Linked DNA regions of Homo sapiens: all the other regions are linked to region 1. The links come from fine-mapping of genetic effects on gene expression. A gene starts in region 1. Each other region holds a variant in brackets. All regions are shown on one strand. Distances are between the middles of the regions. Region 1 holds the start of CCDC69 (coiled-coil domain containing 69). Region 2 overlaps CCDC69 (coiled-coil domain containing 69). Region 3 overlaps CCDC69 (coiled-coil domain containing 69). Region 4 overlaps CCDC69 (coiled-coil domain containing 69). Region 5 overlaps LOC124901115 (a long non-coding RNA gene).

Evidence for each region.
Region 2: its variant is fine-mapped to the expression of CCDC69 in whole blood (TOPMed, PIP above 0.99).
Region 3: its variant is fine-mapped to the expression of CCDC69 in whole blood (TOPMed, PIP above 0.99).
Region 4: its variant is fine-mapped to the expression of CCDC69 in subcutaneous fat (GTEx, PIP above 0.99). The same link has a PIP of 0.9 or more in breast, fibroblasts, liver, lung, tibial nerve and visceral fat.
Region 5: its variant is fine-mapped to the expression of CCDC69 in whole blood (INTERVAL, PIP 0.96).

The regions. Positions count from the first base shown.
Region 1 is chr5:151,221,657-151,225,774 of GRCh38, reverse strand. It overlaps CCDC69 (coiled-coil domain containing 69), which reads left to right and starts at 1,683. Exons shown (of 9, transcript NM_015621.3): 1 at 1,683-1,852. The coding sequence starts at 1,805. LOC105378230 (a long non-coding RNA gene) reads right to left here. Exons shown (of 4, transcript NR_160730.1): 4 at 1,425-2,299. RefSeq lists silencers at 1-247, 1,731-1,810 and enhancers at 1,931-2,130, 2,151-2,260, 3,681-3,900.
Region 2 is chr5:151,183,001-151,187,118 of GRCh38, reverse strand. CCDC69 (coiled-coil domain containing 69) reads left to right here. Exons shown (of 9, transcript NM_015621.3): 6 at 995-1,096; 7 at 1,578-1,697; 8 at 2,678-2,775; 9 at 3,505-4,118. The coding sequence ends at 3,682. Among named protein-coding and RNA genes, the nearest start is that of ANXA6, 27 kb to the right of the region's middle. The variant C/T (reference allele first, on the strand shown) is at 1,674.
Region 3 is chr5:151,177,167-151,181,284 of GRCh38, reverse strand. CCDC69 (coiled-coil domain containing 69) reads left to right here. Exons shown (of 9, transcript NM_015621.3): 9 at 1-233. It also overlaps the pseudogene PDGFRL2P. Among named protein-coding and RNA genes, the nearest start is that of ANXA6, 21 kb to the right of the region's middle. The variant C/T (reference allele first, on the strand shown) is at 2,049.
Region 4 is chr5:151,193,792-151,197,909 of GRCh38, reverse strand. All of the region lies in intron 4 of CCDC69 (coiled-coil domain containing 69), which reads left to right. Among named protein-coding and RNA genes, the nearest start is that of CCDC69, 28 kb to the left of the region's middle. The variant G/T (reference allele first, on the strand shown) is at 2,004.
Region 5 is chr5:151,242,635-151,246,752 of GRCh38, reverse strand. It overlaps LOC124901115 (a long non-coding RNA gene), which reads left to right. Exons shown (of 3, transcript XR_007059003.1): 3 at 1-1,081. Among named protein-coding and RNA genes, the nearest start is that of GM2A, 8.5 kb to the left of the region's middle. The variant T/C (reference allele first, on the strand shown) is at 1,944.

The DNA.
Region 1 (4,118 bases):
CCAGACATGAGTGGAGTGCTTATGAAGCCATAGATTCCTAAGCCCCATCCCCAGAGTTTAGGCCAGGGGTGGGGCCCGAGAATTTGCATTTCCAACAAAGGCGGCTGGTAGTGCTGACACTGCTGATTTGGGAATCACACTTTGTGAGCCACCATTCTCTATTATACTTGCTTTTGAGAACCTAATAACACGTTTCCTTAGTTTCCTTTCTTACACACTTTTGCAATTGGTTTTGTACCCTATGGAGGGAGCAATTTTTTTGAGGTCTCATATTCTTTCCCCATTCATGACTCTAAGCCGTTTTCACAGCACACCTTTCCAAGAGTTTTGGGCCTGACTTTAATATTCCAATATACACGCAAATAGGCATACACACTGATTTTCAAAATTGGTTATCTTTTTCCTGCATTGCCATTTCAGAAACCTCAGCTAATAACAAAGAGAAGATAAACAAAAGCTCCTTTTCCTAGACACTGACATTTTATGTCCCATAGTCACCATACCTGGCCTGCCTCAAGAGGTTGTTGTGATGAATAACATCTATCCAAGATGGATAGAGTCAAATATTACAGATGCTTGTGAGGTGGAAAAAACTATCAGCCCAGAAGTGAGGAGGCATTAAAATTAAACTTAGTATTATTGGCCAGGTGTGGGATCCCAGGACTTTGGGAGGCCGAAGCGGGCGGATTACCTGAGGTTGGGAGTTTGAGATCAGCCTGGTCAAAATGGTGAAACTCTGTCTCTACTAAAAATACAAAAATTAGTTGGGTGTCGTGGTGCATGCCTGTAATCCCAGCTACTGGGGAGGCTGAGGCAGGAGAATCACTTGAACCTGGGAGGCAGAGGTTGCAGTGAGCCAAGATCGTGCCACTGCACTCTAGCCTGGGCAATAGAGCGAGACTCTGTCTCAAAAATAAATAAATACAATAAACTTAGTATTATGATTTATTTGTAGGCCATTGAGTCAAAGTTTAGGTTCTGGAGTTAGAACTGTATTCTGTGCAGTGGCTCATGCCTGTAATCCCAACGCTTTGGGAGGCCAGGGTGGGAGGATCGCTTGAGGGCGGTCGTTCAAAATCAGACTGGAAAAAAGAAAAGAATTTGGTTGGGTATGGTGGTGAGCCTCTGTAGTCCCAGCTACTCAGGAGGCTGAGCTGGGAGGCTCGCTTGAGCCCAGGAGTTTGAGGCTGCAGTGAACTATGATAGCGGCAAAAAAAAAAAAAAAAAAGGAACTGGATTCTATCTGGGCTGTGGTAACTTACTAGCCATGTGACCTTAGGCAAATCATGTTGCATCTCTGAACACCATTTTCCTCACCTGTAAAATGGAGGAAGTAATACCTTTGTTGCACTGATATGGCAAGAAATAGAAATAAAATGTATAAAACAACTGGGACAAAAACAGCCCTCAATGAATGATAGTTGTTAGTTTATCAAATAATTGCTTTAATTATTTTTTCCCCCGGCCCTTTCTTAGCTGAGGGTTCGGAAAAGCATCTGTTGCTCCTTGAGGTTTTCTTTTCTTCTGCCCTGACCAGAGCTTCCTATTATTTAGAAGGATTCTGGTCACCTGCCTCTGGTGGCGGCGCCGCTGGCCCTGCGGGCTACACTGAGGCCCCGCTCTTCGGGTATTTACGGCGGGCGGCCGCCCCAGCTCAGGCTCAAGACAGCGCTTCCAGGTTCAGTTTCAGGGTCTCGCCGGCAGCCCCAGCCGGCGGGCGCGGAGCGGGCAGCGGGGCCCGGATCGCAGGCTCCTCTGGGGGCCCCGGAGTTGGGAAGCGGCGTCCGGGAGCCCCCGGAGGAGGATGGGCTGCAGACACAGCAGGCTGAGCAGCTGCAAACCCCCGAAAAAGGTAAAGGGCGCCGGCGGAGAAGTTTGCTTTCAGAGGAGAGGGGAGTGCGGAATCGCTCCGCCGCAGAGGACTCGGCGCCCCGGGCTCTCTCTGGTCGGCCCGGGATACCGGACGGAGAACCTGGAGAGGCCAGCTCAGAGACGAGGGAGGCTCTGCTGGGAGGCGCCCTTTACCCCGGCCCGAGCCGCACCAAGCAGCCGAGTTTACAAACACGGCACCCGGGCCAGGGAAAGGCAGCTGATTCCCGCTGCCTCGGGTGGGGAGATGTCGTGTGTCTGTGGCAGGTGCCCTCTGCTTTCGGTCTGGGGCTGTTCGCTGTGTGGCCATGGACAAGTGACTTGACCTCTCTGGGCCTTCGGCTTCCTCCCCCCGGGGGTTAAAGGCTGATAATCTCAGGGCTGCTCGAAGAGTGTTCCACAGACTCGCAGTATCAGCATCCCTGGGGACCTGTCAGAAATGCAGAATCTCAGGCTCAGGCCCAGTCTTGCCAAGACAGAAGCTGCCTTTTAACAATATGCCCAGGTGATGACGCTTTAAAGTTTGAGGCGCTGGTCTTAGGGCTCTTGCAGGCCCCAGAGCTGGTGAGTGTGGGCTGCCCTTGGGGTAGCTGGGAGGGGCCAAAGAGGGAGGAGATCTACTGCGTTCTGTGGCCCTCTCCTCCCTTCCTGTCCTTCCCCCAAGGGGCCTTGGAGCTGGGTCAGGGCCCAGGGGACAATTCTCAGGTTTCTTGCAGTGAGACCAGCTGCCCCTTGGGGTCTGACGAGCCCAGAAGGTCAGAGCCTGGAGCTAGAAAGATAGCCTCCTCAGGGGACACTGTGAGGCAGAGGGGAAGAAGGACCCTCAAATTCTGGCCCCTTTTCTTACCACTACCTGCCCCCTAGCCAGGTGGGACTAGGTGATCCCTTAAACTTTATCATCATTCCCCCTTGAGACCTTGAGAGGCCCCAAACTGTGACAGTGTTTAATAGTTTTGCAATGAACTTTAGTCCTCCCTCTGCTCCTGCTTTGCTTGTGCCCTGAGTACAGGTTTTTCTGCCTAACAGTAGTCCTAGCCTGGAGGATTCTACTCCCTTCTCTGACACCTCCTGGCTTTCCTTGCTCTCCCTTTATTACCAGATTGAAATTCTCACCAACTCCTGACCTAGAAACCCTCATGTCTTTACTCACTCCAACAGGGAAACTGAGGCTTGGCTCTATCAGTAGAAGGAAGGGGCTGGCTGACAGGGATGACAAGGCGGAGAGACCTGAGCCTTGGCTGAGACTTGTAACTGAGCAAGTGGTAGGCAGACATTAGCCCTGGGTGTAAGTCCTGGTGGTGCCATAAACATACTGGGTGACCCCAAGCAAGCCCTTGTGTCTCCCTGGGTCTCAGTTTCTCCCTGTATGGGGAGTGATGAGCAGGATGATCCCTAAGCATCTGAGAGTCTGTGTTCTCTGCACCTGTGTCAACCTTGTAGCTTGCAAAGTGGACCAAGGGTGAATTCCATCTACCTAGAGGTGGAGGAAACGGGGAAGAGCCTGACCCTTCCACAAGCTGGAAGAGGAGGTCACAGTAAGCACAGGTTCTTTGGCTCCTGCTCCTTCTGAGAGACTTACCAGCTGTTCCTGCCTGTCCCTGGCACAGCCAAAGCTCTGAAGGGCAAGTAAAGCTGGCACAGCCTGTCTGAGTTGGAAAGGGCCTTTGGGTACTACCTGGGCTGACGCACCCACTATACAGATAGGAGGTTAAGGCCTAGAAAAGGGAAGGAGCATGACTGAGGTCACAGAGCAACACAGAGCAGAACCCAGGTATCTAGTCCCCTAGCTCCGTGTTCTTTGTCTCCACCTCCTCCCGCTGTGCTTCCAGTGGCTTCTTGATGACTTTAGCGTAAAATCTTTTACTCCTGTTGCCTCAGAGAACAGCCTGGCATGCCTTCTTGGCCCCAGCCATGCCAGGCCCCTGCCCCTATATGGCAAGATTTATGGGCTGTTTTTGTTTAAAGTTCTCATCCCTGTAGGCTGTGCTCCTGCCCAATTTCTCACCCAGGTGCCAACCCCTTGGAAGGCATGAGCTCCCAAGTTCATCCCCAACAGGCTACCAGCCCCCTGGGAGAGAGGGGGACTCCAGGGATGGGATGGACAAAAATGAGCTCAGGCTACAGAGGGGTTAGGTTCTGATAACCATGACTCACCCTGAGTGTTTACAGCATGCTTTCACATCCCGCCCAGTCTCACAGAAGCCCTGGAAGTTAGGCTGAGCTGCAGAATCTTTCCCACTTTACCGGGG
Region 2 (4,118 bases), 39 kb after region 1:
TAGATTCATGGGTGGATGCACAGGGACCTGTGGAAGGATGCAGGGAAGCATCTGACTCAATGTGGCTGTGCAGGAAAGATTTCCTAGAGGGAGTGAGATCTAAGCTGGAGTCTGAAGGATGGGTTGGAATTCTTTGGTAAAGAAGGGTAGGAAGGGTGCCTCAGGCAGAAAAAAAGCAATGTGTTCAAAGACATGGAGGAAAAAGGAAAAATATGGAATACCTGAGGAACCGAAAGATGTCCAGGATGCCTGGGGTATGAGTTTCAGTGGGAGAGGGGACTAAGGCTAAGAACGTGAGCAAGGGCCAGAGTGGAAGCCAGTGAGCCACCTTAAGGGGTTGTGCTCTAGCCTAACGGTAGTGGTCACGGTTCAAGTAGAGAAAGTTCTTGGCAGTGAAACAGTTTGGAGATAAGAATGTACCCTGCAGCTGGGGGACTATTGTGATGTTTGGCTGCAGGAGAGGATGTATAGAAGGAGCAGTGAGAGGTGAGCTTGGAAAAATTCATTGAGCCTGGTTTGGATGTGTTTTGAATGCCAGGCTAACAACCATCTTTTATAGCAGGACATTGTTCCCTGCAGTATGGGGAGCCGTTAAAGGCATTAAAGCAAGAGGTGGGGTTGGTATGTTCCTTTCATCTCCTCTCCTTCTCCCTCTCCTTCTCCTTCTCCCTCCCTCTCCTTCTCCTTCTCTGTCCCCCTCCCTTCCCCTCCCTATCTCCCTCCCCCTCCCGTCCCCCTCCCCTCCCCTCCCGTCTTCTTTTCTTTCCTCTTTTCTTTTCTCTTCTTTCTTTCTCTTCCCAGCATGCAATTCTGCACTGTAAGGGCTGGTAGATCTCAAGCAGTGGTCGAAGTATGTTGATGTTGCATTGTCATGTAGAGTAGCCAAAGACAGATTGAAGAACCCAAAACCGTTCTCCCTCTGGGATGTGGCGAAGTTCACCTACAGCATTTATGAGGCAGGCTTTGATTGTCTCCATCCCACTCCCTGCTCCAGGAGACCATAGACAGACTGACCTCACAGCTGGAGGCTTTCCAGGCCAAAATGAAGAGGGTGGAGGAGTCCATTCTGAGCCGAAACTATAAGAAACATATCCAGGTAGGTGGCAGCACCCTGGGCGCTTTTCCTCCTTGAATCTCCAGGGAGGTCAGGGCCGGGCAACAGGAAAGACCAGCCCCTCTTCAAGGACAAGACTCAGACCTGGCACTCTTACCTACACAAGGGCCTGGAAATAAAAGAGTTCCCATTTCACCGATGGGAAAATTAAGGCCCAGAGAGCAGCATCTGGAATAGTAAAGTGCTCACGTTCTGGATTCAGAGAGAACTAGGTGCACATAGCAAACCTGCCACTTAGCACAAGTGACTCAACCTGTCCGAACCACAGTCTCCTCATCTGTGGTGCTAGCACATGTCTCAAAAGGTGATATTCGGATACAGGGAGATAAAGCATATTAAACACTTAACATGGGCTGAGAGAGGAAGGTGGGTGACTTGTGAAAGTCCAACAATGAGTTGCTGGCAGAATGGGGAGGAGGGAGGTAGCCTACTGGCCTAATGAGGTCACTCTGTCCCTGTCTAGGATTATGGGAGCCCCAGCCAGTTCTGGGAGCAGGAGCTGGAGAGCTTACACTTTGTCATCGAGATGAAGAATGAGCGTATTCATGAGCTGGACAGG[C/T]GGCTGATCCTCATGGAAACAGTGGTCTGTGACTGGGAGTGGCTGGGGGATGCAGCCTCAGGCTCCCGCTTTCTGGGTGTTTCCTTTGTAAAGCATGCAGAGGGGAGGTGGTTTGAGGAGGTCCCAGCCTAGTTCACTCCAGCTTTGACCTGCCACCTGTGCTGACCACTGAGCATGGTCTGTGGCCAGGCTGGGTCAAGCAGTGGCTCCTTATCATCTGAGTCCTGTGCCTTTTGAGGCTACTGATGTTGCTGTAGCTTGGGTGACACTAGGGCAGGTAGCATTGAGAACACGGGAGGACAGAAGCCTCAGAAACCCTAGGGTTGAATCTAAGCAGAGATTATGTTGCTGTAGAAGTCTCCCTGGCCTCCTGTGTGCCTTACAACTTATAATTAAAAAAATAAAACTAAGGAGTTAACAAAAAGCTGCTGACTTTTAATTTTGCCACATGAGAATGTTTAAAAAAAAAGTCTTACAGGCACTACCATCTCATGTCACCATCCGTTCTTTTCTCAGGAAGGAAAGAGGGTAGGAGGGAGATGGGGAGCCAGGGTGTGTGCCCAGGGAGCCCTGGGGGCTTGAGTCACGTGACATGGAATCACCCACAGGGCTTTATTTTAATCAGATCATCTCAAACATTCCGTATAGATTTTGTTCGCTCATTTTTGTGGAAACACATAACAGACAAACTTAATTTTATTTATATAGATCATATCCTTCTGACTTTTGGAGAACAAAACATATTCTTTCTTCCATGAACTCATGGTGAAATGAGATGGTAGGGCCTGTAATTTTTTTTTACCATTCTCCTGTGGCAAAAAGCCGCAGCCCTTTGTTAACTTTTTAGTTTTACTTTTTTCTAAGTTACCTTATTGCTCCATGAAATGTAACATCTAGTCTAGAATGAATCAGTGCTTTCAGTGACCACAGATAAGAGGGAGGTGACAGCACACATCGTGCAGCGTGAGTTTGGCAGCTTTCTGAGCTCATTCTCATTGTTATAGAAAGAGAAAAATCTGATATTGGAGGAAAAAATTACGACCCTGCAACAGGAAAATGAGGACCTCCATGTCCGAAGCCGCAACCAGGTGGTCCTGTCAAGGTAGCTGTCTTCCTGCCTCCTTTACTCCCATCCCCACCCTTTTTGCCAAAATTCCCAGCTGGGAGAGTCTTAGAGGGGCCTGAGGAATGGACTGACAGGTGGGCCCAGGGCCTATTTAGGGAATGTGGCTCCTCTTTCCCTGGGAGTCAAGAAACCCAAGGGGGCAGTTCTGCTCAGAAACCAAAGTCCCAATGCCTTGATTAGTATCTGTTTGTCTCTGTCCTGGCTGAGTGTACTCTGTGGGAAAGCCCAATATAGGGAGGAGGAAACAGGAAATTTATAGTGCACCAGGCCTAAGTGGAATGAATCAGTTCTTAGGGCTTAGTAAATAAGAGCTAGTATCATGTGTCAGACATAATTTATTGAATACTGTACATATTTTCTCATCTAATCCTCATAATTACTCTAAGAGCTGGGTCCTATTCTTCTTCTTCCCATTTTACAAATGAGAAGACTGAAATTTAAGAAGAATGAATAACTTATTCAAGATTATATAGCTAAGTGGTAGAGCAGAGATTTGAAGCAGCTCAGAACTGCCTGCCTGTCTGTGAGGCCCCCGCTCCTTGGTCAACAGATTGAATTGCCTCTTGTATACAGGCCAACAAGGAGGGCAGTGGGGACCCTGCAGCAGGCTGCTGGTCCATCTAAGGAAGGCTTCCTGGGGGAATGGGTTGGTCTCTGTGGCAGCTGCTCCCAGTAGGCAACCCTGGGCTCTGTGTGCATCCACAGGCAGCTGTCAGAAGACCTGCTTCTCACGCGTGAGGCCCTGGAGAAGGAGGTGCAGCTGCGGCGACAGCTCCAGCAGGAGAAGGAGGAGCTGTTGTACCGGGTCCTTGGGGCCAATGCCTCGCCTGCCTTCCCTCTGGCCCCTGTCACTCCCACTGAGGTCTCTTTCCTCGCCACATAGGGTGCAGGGCCTGGGCCCACCACGACGCCTGAAGTCACAGCTCCTTCCAAGGTTTTTCTGGAGAAGACAGCAGGAGCCTCTCAGTTCTTTTCCAGGAAGGAACGAGGGTGGGAGCGAGATGGAGATCCTGGGTGTGTGCCCAGTGAGCCCTGGGGCCTTGAGTTACATGGAATCACCCACAGGGTTTTGGAGGCCCCGAGAAGCGTCTTCCCTTGAGTTGGCCAAGGGAATAAGCAAGAGGAGACATTTCCTCCCTGCCCCAGCACTCTGTCCCAATCCGAGAAGTTCCGAGGCTTTCCCAGGGGCAGTCTGTGTCACGCTGGCCATTTGACATAAAGGAGACAGCCCCTGGTCCCAGCTTGTCAGCTCTGCTGCCGACTTGCTGACTTATCAACTTCCTCTAGGTGTTTCCACTCCACCCTGGCCTGCTCAGAGC
Region 3 (4,118 bases), 44 kb after region 1:
AGATCGCGCCACTGCACTCCAGCCCGGGTGACAGAGCAAGACTCCGTCTCAAAAAAAAGAAAAGAAAAAAGAAAGCATTGTTTTAATTGAGAGGGGCAGGGCTGGAGAAGGAGCAAGTTGTGGGGAGCCAGGCTTCCCTCACGCAGCCTGTGGTGGATGTGGGAAGGAGATCAACTTCTCCTCACTCTGGGACAGACGATGTATGGAAACTAAAAAGAACATGCGGCACCTTATTTATGTGACTTTTGTGTTTTTCTGGGAGGGTGGGGAGGTGGGTCTTCACAAGGACTTCTGCCAATGGTGGGGATCTCTGAAGAGTAAATCTGGGGCCTGGGTAGCCCACTCGTGGTTCTGGGCACTCTCCTCAAGCACCAAAGCCCCACTGGCCCTTGCTTTGCCCTAATTGTGGATGTGGGGCCTGGGGCTAGGGTGAAGCCTGGATTAAAGGATGGCCTTCAAAATAGACCAAGGCTTGGAGTGAGGCTGAGGTTGAAGTAAGTGGTGAAAACAGAGGGATGGGGTGGGAGAGACTGCGAGGATGAATGAGAAGTCACCTTCTGCACTGCAGGACCCCTCTTTGGCATCAGAAACACTGATGTTCCCACAGGTACCTACCCCTGATTCTGCCTATTGCTCCACATCCAGATGCCTGTGGCCAGGGAGGGAGCTAGGAAGGGGTAGAGGAGACACGAGGACCTCGAGTCACGTGGACATGGGTGGTGGCCAAACCAGTGCCCTGAAGGTTGGTGGCCCAGCAGGTGTAGACACCAGCATCCCTAGCCCAGGTCCCCTCCACATACAGGGTGCCCTCTGCCTCCTGCTGTACCTGGCTCTCCCCGTGTACCACATGGGCCTGTTCACTGATGTAGAGTGGTTGGCCCAACGGTAGGGGATAAAAACGGACTGTCCATCAGCTGCCCCAGGTGCATCTCTGACTCACACACCAGGGTCAGGTAAGAGGCACCATTTATCTCTTTGGGGAAAGGAGAAGTGACTTGCCCAAGGTCACACTTCAGCTTGGTGTCAGAGCACCTTAAAGGCCAGGTTCTTTGTGAAAAACGTTAAGCTTCTCAAGTCTGCAGAGAAAAGCTGGGTTTCCCTCCCCTTCTCAAAGAGTGTCCAGAGGTAACTCAGTCCAGGGAAGTACTTCCCAACGTGGGTTTTGTGGCCCTCTGCTTCTGTAGGGATGCTACCTCCTCAAAGGAGAGGAAGAGGAAGAATTTTACTACCAAAAGTGTTTTGGAAACATTAAGAAAAGCAAAGTGAAATTGGGTAGACTCCGACCACTGAGTCTGTTACATGTACCTGTGTATTTTGAATCTCCAAGACAGGTAATGGTTATAAGAGGAAGTGAGGTAGGGTGGGAGGGAACTTTCTGGTATTCCACCCTTCTAAAGAACATGTTGGGGAAATCCTGGTAAAGCCAAGCCAGTGTCTCCTGACCGTCTGTATGCTCCTTTCCCCTTCTTGGGTCTCAGTTTCCTCTTCTGACAAGTGGGAGAATGATCCTTTACCCTTTCCAATGCCTAAGGCCTCTGTGGAGTTCACCTTTATCACATCCTTGCAGCCACTGCAGGGAATGGAGAGATGAACTCGGGAAGTCGCTATGTGCCAGCTCAGGCTACACAAATGACTGGAGCGAGGTGGAGCCAGAGTGTTTTAAGTTCGGGGGGAACAGGGCACCCTCACTGGGTTCCACAGGGCACCCTCACTGGGTGCCACTGGCCTCCTTTTCAGGGCTACTGAAAGTGGTGATCTTGTCAAATCACAGCTTGTAGAGCACCTTGTTTCCCTGTCCTATACTGTTCTTAAATGGCCTCCAGCTGGGTGATAGCCCCTCATGGGTCTTTCTGAGCCACTCTTTCCCTGGGACCCATACAAGATCAGCTCACTGCTCACATGTCATTGATGGCTCCTGGGAGTCTCAAGAATGATGCTTGAGTTCCTGGGCCCACATGCTCCCCTGCATTCTCCACAGGTGGCAGTGGTGGGACAGATGAGTCTCTGGGTCTCATGTGGGTGTGACATGTTCGCCCTTATTCTTTCTC[C/T]TAGTACCACAGGTCTGGATCTTCCCCCTCCCTCTCCACAAGGCTCCTGTCAAATTCCAGCTCTTCCAGGAAGTCCTCTTACAAATGCCTCAGGTCCTCCAGGTTGGTAATATACCTTTTAGCACAGCCGTTCTCCAGATGTTTGAATTTCATGGGAGTAAGTTCTTTGAGAAGAAAGAAACACTACCTCTCCAACACCACTTGGGAAGGTCTGATCTCACAGCAGATGCCAAGGAAACAGTTGCTAACGTTCATCTCCTGTTACACATACACACCCAGCCACAGAGCCTGAGCATTTGCTCCAGCACCATCTTTGTGTGGCTGAGGCCAGTCTGGTCTCGGCTTGAATGTCACCTTGGAGATGACTCCCTAACCACTATATCTTAGGTAGACCCTATCGCATTGCCCTGTTTTATGCTCATTGTATCATTTGGCATTGTCTGCATGGTCACTTTTGTCCATATTTCACTTCTCCCTGCTTAGATGATAAACTTGCAGATAGCAGAAGCCATCTCTTTTAGACTCATCCTCATAACCTTAGTACCTAGTCCAGTGTCTGGCATGTGGCAAGTGCTCATTTTTGGTTAAATTAAGAAAGGAACAAATTATGCATTCTTACGCAGTAATCTGAGAAGTTACTATTTGAAAGATGAGAAAACTGGGGCCCAGAAAAGGGAAGTGATTTGCCCTAGGTAACTCAGAGAAGCAGCATCAGAGTTGGGACCAGAATCCAGGTTTATCAGATTCCCAGTCAAGCAGTAGCTCCATCCCACCATGATTGCTCTTGGTCCTAACTAATCCTTCACTCCCACCTCCCTGCCCCAACACTCCACCACCATGTACACACATACACACAGCCTCCATTACCCGCTGCTTACCTTCTGCCCTGAATATCCCTCGCTAAGGTCCACAGCAATCTCTGGCTCGGCCCAGAACCATGCAGGTCACACTGAAGTTTTCTCCTAGTTATACTGATGTTGCTGAAGCTTGGATGGTGGGTTTTGGGGAGGAAGATGGGTCTGCCATGGTTAAGAGGGTAGAGAAGTTAGAGACAAACATGTTGACTTGATTGTTAGAATTGTTGAATTGATGGTAGATAGAGGGATGGAGAGATGGATGAATAGAATGAATGGGCAGAATGGCTAAATGGGTAGAGGGTGAATGGTTGAGGTGGTTGAATTGATAGAGGATGTGTAGATGTATGAATGGGTAAAATGAATTAATGGAGTATGGGTAGGTGATGGAATGATTGACTGATGGAGGATTCATGCATGGAACAGTTTGACTTGATTGTGAATAGGTCAATGGATAGAAAGGCTGAGCTGGTATCAGCTGGTTCCATGGCTGATCGGCTGGCTGGACAAAACGGCTGACTACATAGAGAGTCATCAAAAGCTGATGTTGTTTAGAGCTCCATAATCCACAGAGCCGAAACCAGAGGTTCCTGAAGAAGGTATATCTCCCCATATCCTCCCCTTCCCTGCCCACCCAGAGCCCTAGACCCATGTGCAATTGATATAGACCAGAATGTACTTGGTAGAGATTTGTCTCATGCCACCTAGGCTGGCCATGCATAAGAGGGAGCCAGCCAAGGAAGCCTGGGCCTGGTGAATAGTGAAGCCCTTCTTCACATCAAAGGAGATGTCTGTCTCCCACTGGGACCTCCTCAGTGGGGAGCTCCCAGTGTAGTGCCATCTGGGCCAGGGGGTTTTTAACTTGGAAGGGAAGCAAGGCTGGATGATGAGTGCGCAGCTGTACCACCTCATAGTAGTTATCTGTAGGGACAAAGAGCTCCTCAGGGTCTGGGAATGTGGGGAAAAAGATTTGTTGCTTCCCAGTGGCTCTATTACCACCCAGGAGCATGAGGTCTTTCTTGGGGACCTGAAACCTCACTATCTCTTCCCATCCCCATTCTCTATGCTCCTTCCTGTCTCATAAGGAAGGGGTCCTGGACTGAGGATGCTGAAGACAAACTTCCTAGTTCCAGATCTGTCATTAGCTTGCTGTGTGTATTAAAGAAATCTTTCCCTCTCTGCACATGCAATCATGCACAATGCAAGGATTCAGACT
Region 4 (4,118 bases), 28 kb after region 1:
TCTATACCAAGAGTTTTAGTAACTACATAGCATTCCAATATGCACCCTTGTTCATTTAACTGAGTCCCTTTGTTAGGCATTTAGGTAATTTCAAGATTTTTCTCATTGTCTATAACAGCAATGATACTTACATAATCAACCCCGGTTTTATAACATCTTTGTCACATTCATGATTTCAGCATTAGAATAACATCCTAATAGAATTGGTGTGGTAAAGTTTATGTATATCTATTTTTTATTTTGGTAAAATAGACATAAGATTTACCATTAGTGACATTTAATACATTCACAGTGCCATCACCCCAAAAGGAAACTCCCACCCACCGAGCAGGCACTTTTTTTGTTTGTTTTGTTTTTGTTTTTTTTGTTTTGTTTGTTTGTTTGTTTGAGACAGGGTCTCGCTCTGTTGCCCAGGCTGGAGTACAGTGGCACGATCTCGGCTCACTTCAACCTCCGCCTCTTGGGCTCAAGCAGTCCTTGCCCCTCAGCCTTCTGAGTAGCTACAGGCGCGTGCCACCATGCCCAGCTAATTTTTATATTTTTTTGTAGAGATGGGGTTTTGCCATGTTTCCCAGGCAGATCTCAAACTCCTGGGCTCAAGTGATCCGCCCACCTCGGCCTCCCAAAGTGCTGGGATTACAGGCATGAGCCATTGTGCCCAGCCTAAGCAGTCACTTCTTATCTTACCACTAGCCCCTGGCAACCACCAATCCACTGTCTGTCTCTATGGCCTTGTCCATTCTGGACACGCATATAAACGGGATTGTATAACCCACATGATCACCCACATCTGACTTCTTTCACCTTGGAATGTTTTCACCTTGAAATGTTTCCAGGGCTCATCTGTGTTGCAGCATGCATCTACACTTTGTTTCTTTTTACGGCTGGGTAATTTGCCATTGCACAGACACACCACACTCTACCCATTCATCATCAGTTGATGGACACCTAGGCTGCCTCCACCATTTAGCCACTGTAAATAGTGCCACTAGTACAGGCACCTACTTGAACAGCTGTTTTCAGTTCCCCCTGGGTGTACACCCAGGAGAATTGCTGGGTCATACGATCATTCTGTGCTTAACTTTTTGAACAACTGCCAAACTGTTTTCCACAGGGGCTGTACCACTTTATGTTCCCATCAGCAACCCACAAGAGTTCCAATGGTGGCACATCCTTTTCAACACTTGTTATTTTCTGCAACACCTGTTGCTATCCTAGTGCACATAAAGTGGTTTCGCATTGTGGTTGTGATTTGCATTTCCCTAATGCCTAATTCTGTTGAGCATCTTTTCATGTGCTTCTTGGTGACTTGTGTATCTTCTCTGGAGAAGGTTATGTATATTACTGATGTTACTGAAATTGACCTTGAAAATGCTTTACTGATTTTTCCTTTCATCATGAGTATTCGCATGGCCTTTCCCCAGAATTATTTATCTTCTTAAAACATGGCTGTGGCTGGGTGCAGTGGCTCACACCTGTAATACCAGCACTTTGGGAGGCCGAGGCGGGTGTATCACAAGGTCAGGAGTTCGAGACCAGCCTGGCCAACATGATGAAACCCCGTCTCTACTAAAAAATAAAATTAGTCTGGTGTGGTGGTGTGCACCTATAATCCCAGCTACTCAGGATACTGAGGAGGCTGAGGCAGGAGAATTGCTTGAACCCGGGAGGCAGAGGTTGCAGTGAGCCAAGATCTCACCACTGTACTCCAGCCTGGGTGACAGAGCAAGACTCCATCTAAAAAACAAAACAAAACAACAAAACACATGGTTGTGATTATTTTGTACGTAAAAGTGTATATCCTGTTCTTTTCATTTAACATTGTATCAAATATGTTTCCAAGTAATTATGCTGCTACTAAAATGTTTATAAAGGCAAGACCGTAAAGTACATGGCTTTCCTTATTTCTTGTGAGTCTAGACCTCTAGATCTCAAAACAGCTTTTGCATAATGTTGCCGGTATTTCACATTATGTCCTTAGATTTACCCAGATGGAATAACTA[G/T]AACAGAGGTCTGAATGATTTTAAGAATCTTGAAACATATTGCAACATTAGCACACATTATTGCAAACATTGTGAAATGGAATTAAAGTCCTTGCCTGGAAATTGAAGAATTGTGGTTTTGTGGGTGTGGGTGTGTGTGGGTGTGTGTGTGGGTGTGAGTGTGCGTGTTTTTTTTTTTTTTTTTTTTTGAGATGGAGTCTCACTCTGTCCCCCAGGCTGGAGTGCAGTGGCATGATCTCGGTTCACTGTAACCTCCGCCTCCCGGGTTCAAGTGATTCTTCTGCCTCAGCCTCCCGAGTAGCTGGGATTACAGGCACCTGCAACCACGCCTGGCTAATTTTTGTATTTTTAGTAGAGACAGGGTTTCACCATGTTGGCCAGGCTGGTCCCGAATTCCTGACCTCATAATCCGCCTGCCTCGGCCTCCTAAAGTGCTGAGATTACAGGCGTGAGCCACCTCGCCCAGCCGAAGAATTGTGTTTTAATAATACCATACCCTGTTGAACTGGGGCTATCACTCAACCTCCTTGAATCTTGGTTCAGTTTCTCTATCTCTAAAATCTACCTTCTGTACCTCACAAGACTTTATGGGAAAACAACTTTATTCTCCAAGCATTGCTTTGATATTATTTTTAGCGTTACAAATATATTAATAAGAAGAATTTCCTACTGTAACACCCAGGGGAGAAGAGATTGCCTGTCTTGAGTTTTTCCCATTAGTCAGAATTCTTCTATAGTTATTTTTAAATTGTTTGGCACATACTAAGTGCTACATAAGTCTATAATGAATGAATGAAAGCACAGGATGGTGGAAATATATGACATTTTATATGTATGGGGAGAGGTACACAGATAACCAGGAGAGACTAGTGGTGATTTTCCACATTCGATGACCCTTTGCTGTCTTTTTTTTATTTTTTAAATTATCATATAGTAAAATTGACTCTTTTTGAGGGGATGTGCATTTTCATAAATTCTAATGCATGTATAGATTCTTTTTTTTTTTTTTTTTTTTGAGATGGAGGCTCGCCCTGTCACCCAGGCTGGAGTGCAGTGGCGTGATCTCGGCTCACTGCAACCTCCGCCTCCCGGGTTCAAGCAATTCTTTGCCTGAGCCTCCCGAGTAACTGGGATTACAGGCACGTGCCACTATGCCCAGCTAATTTTTGTATTTTTAGTAGAGACAGTGTTTCACCATCTTGGTCAGGCTGGTCTTCAACTCCTGACCTCGTGATCCACCCGCCTTGGCCTCCCAAAGTACTGGGATTACAGGTGTAAGCCACCGCGCCCTGCCGCATGTATAGATTCTTGTAACCATCGCCACAATCAGGATACACAACAGTTTTATCACTCCCAAAAAGCCGTCTCAAAATACCCTTGTATTCACATCCTTCTCCCACCCTAACCCCTGGCAATTACTGATCTGTTCTCCATCTCTGTAGCTTTGTCTTTTCTAGGCTATTACATAAATGAAATAATACAATATGATTTTTTATATTGGCTTCCTTCATGCATCACGATGCCTTTGACATTCATTCCAATTGTTGCATATCTCAATAATTCATACATTTTCATTGTGGAGTTATATTCCATTGTTTACTCATTCACTGTTGCAGGACATTTGAGGCAATTATGAATAGAGCTGTTCTAACATTCATGTGCAGGCTTTGTGTGGACATAGGTTTTCATTTATCTTGGGTGAATACACAGGAGTGGGATAGGTCATATGATAAATGTATGTTTAGCTTTATGAGAAACAGCTAAACTGTCTTCCAGAGTGACCACTATTTTATATCACCATCTGTGATGTATGAGTTATACCGTTGCTACTTCATGCCAATACTTGCTGTCACTGGTTTTTTATTTTAGCTGTTCTAATAGGTGTGCAGTAATCTTCACCATAGGTTTAATTTACATTTCAATAACAACTCATGTGCTTATTTGCTGTCTACATATCCTCTTTGGTCAAATGTGTGTTCAGGTCTTTTTCCCATTTAAATTAACTTGCTTGTCCTTACTGTGGAGTTTTGAGATATCTTTATATATTTTGGACAAGAGTTCTTTGTATTTGCACATATTTTCTCCTAGCCAGTGGGGTGATTTTTTTCATTCTGT
Region 5 (4,118 bases), 21 kb before region 1:
GTTATACAGAAGGCCATTCTTAACTAATAATTACTGATCCAGAAACAGCCAGTAAAATACCTAGTCAACCTAGGACAATTTCAGCAGGCTTTACAAAAGTGTGGAATTCAAAGGCTCCCCATACTGGGAACTAACTAGCGACCCTAAATCAGGCCAGGAGATAAGGTACTTGTTAAAACACGCAAGGAGGGATCAACTGTTCAACAATTACAACCCAAATGGAAGGGACCATGTTCAGTAATACTGGCTATGCCTTCTGCCATCAAAGTACAAGGATTAGATTGGGTACATCTTTCAAGGATCAAGCCAGCAATACCAGAAGATCCGGACCAGGAACCTGAAGTTTCCATCAGCCACTACACCTGTGAACCTGTGGAAGCCCTGAAGTTCCTGTTTAAAAGACAGCCAAAAGATGAGTAAATGCCTACCAATTTTCCTTGGTGCCTTTGTTGCATAATTACCGTAGGCTGGATAATAGTAGTCATTTATTTTATTTTTGCAGTTTAATTGCCTTCTTCCAAATGGATAGAATCACTTCCTTTGTAGTAATTAAGTTGAATGTTTTAATACATTTTTATAACAAACATTCCTGACAGCATAGGTATCCACACCCAAAGTTCCCATTAAGTCTTTTAACCGAATTCATTTCCTCTCGCATAGAGACTATCAAGCCTCAGATGATCATGCAACAAGGTTTCCAGCCAGTTCCAAGTGAAGACACCACCCCTGGCCATCAAGAAGCCACCCTATCTTCACTAGACAGAGTAGGGAGAGAGTTCCATGATCTCCAACAGATAAGGACTACTCCCAAGTCAGCATGAAGCAGTTACAGAAGAAAGTCCATCAGTCCCTCTGCCTCCCATAAAGATTTATGGGGATCACGTCTCTCAGGGATGAGATGAGGCAGGAGAACAGGTCTGGAGGAAGGGAACCTAAGGTTGTTTCACAATGACTTCCTAGAACTAAACTGAAACGAAAACCCTAACTTTCCACACCTAAGTAACAAAAGGACCAGAGACTACTGCCTTTGCAAACCCTCACCTTGTCTGCACAGCAGATGGGAAATTAAAAGTGCCTCTGATTGGTTGGTGTTTTTTTTTTTTTTTTTTTTTGAGTTGGAGTCTTGCTCTGTTACACAGCCTGGAGTGCAATGGCACACTCTCAGATCACTGCAGCCTCTGCCTCTCGGTTTCAAGCAATTCTGCCTCAGCCCCCCGAGTAGCTGGAATTACAGGCACCTGCCACCACAGCTGTCTAATTTTTAAAATATTTTCAGTAGAGACGGGTTTCGCCATGTTGGCCAGGCTGGTCTCAAACTCTTGGCCTCAGGAGATCCGCCCGTCTCCAGCCTCCCAAAGTGCTTGAGCCACTGTGCCTAGCCAACTGGTTGCTTTATGCAGCCAATCAGATGTTTGCACAGGAGTGTGACCTTTGACATTTCAGCCTCCTATTGGTTGCTTTCTGCAACCGATCAGACTGATTGTGGGCCAACACTTCATTTACATGAAGGGAGCACCAAGTAGCCAATAGGAAACCTCTAGAGGGTATCTGGACCCCAGAAGATTCTGTATCAGGGGCCCTTGAGCTGCTGCTCAGGCTGCTCCCACACTGTGGAGTGTATTTTCATTTTCAATAAATCCCCACTTTCATTCTTTTTTTTTTTTTGAGACGGATGCTCTCTCTGTTGCCCAGCCTGGAGTGCAGTGGCGCCATCTCTGCTCACTGCAACCTCCACCTCCTGGGTTCAAGCGATTCTCCTGCCTCAGCCTCCTAAGTCGCTGGGATTATAGGCATTCACCACCACGCCTGGCTAATTTTTTGTAATTTTTAGTGGAGATGGGGTTTTGCCAAGTTGGCCAGGCTGGCCTTGAACTCCTGACCTCAGGTGATCCACCCGCTTAGCCTCCCAAAGTGCTGGGATTACAGGCTGGAGCCACTGTGCC[T/C]GGATGCATTCTTTCATTGCTTCATTCTTTTCTTGCTTTGCTGTGCGTTTTGTTCATTTCTTTGTTCAAAATGCCAAGAATCTGGACAACTTGCAGTCAAGACCCTCTACCAGTAACACAACCTCTTCATGAGATCCATGAGGAAGAGGACTTGCCCAGTGGTACACAGAAGAAGTGAAACTAGACATCACTTCTCCTAAGGCTGAACCTACAGATTATATGAGAGATGGCCATGTGGCTCTGCTCCAGGTGGACATGGGTGACAGATGCCGCTGTGGCTCTGCTCCTTGGTGGATGTGGGTGAGAGATGCTCATGTAGCTCTGCTCCTTGGTACATGTGTAGATGAGAGATGCCCACGTGGCTCTGGTCCTTGGTGGGTGTGTAGGTGATGGATGCCCCTGTGGCTGCGCTCCTTGGTACATGTGGGTGAGAGACACCCCTGTGGCTCTGCTTCTTGGTGGATGTGGGTGAGAGATGCCCCTGTGGCTCTGCTCCTTGGTGGAGGTTTGTGTGGTTGCTCAAGGTAACCACAATGCCAGCATGGTATGCCCTGCAGCATCACTGGAAAATAGGAAGGGGCTGCATAGACCCTTCCAGCATCATTCCTTGTCTATCTTTCTAGCAACCAAGTCCCCTCAACCCCATTACCCACCTCCTTTTGACTCCTACAGACACACTCCACCATAATACAAGAGGTCAACACCCTTAGTCAGTGAAAGGTTAACTCTCCCAGCCACCTCAGTGGCATATTCCTTTCAGATGAGAGTACCTGGCATCTCCACATAAAGGAATTTGGATGAAATTCTGGAAGGTCACAGACACAGTGACTGGAAACCAAACCATAAACAAGATGGAAGAAGGGAAGGGACATGTTCCCAATCAGGTAGACCCCGGCTTGCACCCTGGCCCTGCCACCTCCTGCTGAGAGAACCTCGGCAGGGCCTTAACCTCTCTGGCCTCAGTTTTCTCATTTGCAAAATGAAGATTCAAGATGATAATAATGAAACTACCTCTCAGTGAAAAACTATTCACTCATTGACTAATCGATTCAACTACTGAACAAGATAAAGGCCCTGCCCCTGCCCCCACAGGCACACCCCATCCGCCTATGACTAGAGTAAAGGGCAATCAGCAAAGAAAGAAATAAACAAGATGATAGCATCAAGTAATAATACTAGATGACAAAAAAAATCAGGTTATGGTAACACAAATTGGGGTGGGTTGCCTTTAGGGGTCTGATAAGAACTCTCTGAGGAGGTGGGCTTTGACTCTCCCCGGGAGAAACGAGAAACACTTGGGGAAAGAGCCAATGGAAAAATTAAACATGGTCAAGACCATCAGGCCATGCTTCCCAGCCGGGGCCTCACATTGCAGTCCTCTGTGAGCTTTTAAAAATCCCAACCCCCAGGCCACACTCTAGACATCTAAATCTCTCGAGATGGGACCTAACCATTGGTACTTAAAAAAAAAACAAAAACCCAGGTGACTAAGATGTGCAGCCAAGGTTGACATACAGTGATGTAAAGTATCTGACGTACATATAATAAGTGCACACATACATAGAAGTGACAATTATTAAAGCAAGGCCTCTGTCCTTGAAGAACTCACCTTCTAAGAGTGATTGGTTAGAATACTGGAAATTAGGCTGGGTGCAGTGGCTCATGCCTGTAATCCCAGCACTTTAGGGGGCAGAGGTGGGTGCTTGCTTACTTGAGCCCAGGAGTTTGAGACCAGCCTGGGAAACATGGTGAGATCCCATCTCTACAAAAAATACCAAATATTATCCGGCGCACATCTGTAGTTCAAGCTACTCAGGAGGCTGAGATGGGAGGACTGCCATAGCCCAGGAGGTGGAGGTTGCAGTGAGCTGTGATCGCGCCACTGCACTTCAGCCTGGGCGACAGAGCGAGACCCTGTCTCAAAAAAAAAAGTAAAATAAAAACTAGAAATTATTACCAGCTTACTATTAACGGCAAGGATCTGGGCCTTGAAATAATATGGCCCAGTACAACCTACCAGTCTTGCTTGTGTGTGGTGGGTATGGGTGTTGTTGGGGACCAGCCATGTATCTAAAGCCTGGGGTGTGTGTGTGTGTGTGTGTGCCCTGAGTGTTAAAAGTGCATATGAGGCAGGAGAATAGGGCCTGGAGGCAGGGAACCTAAAGACTTCCCAGA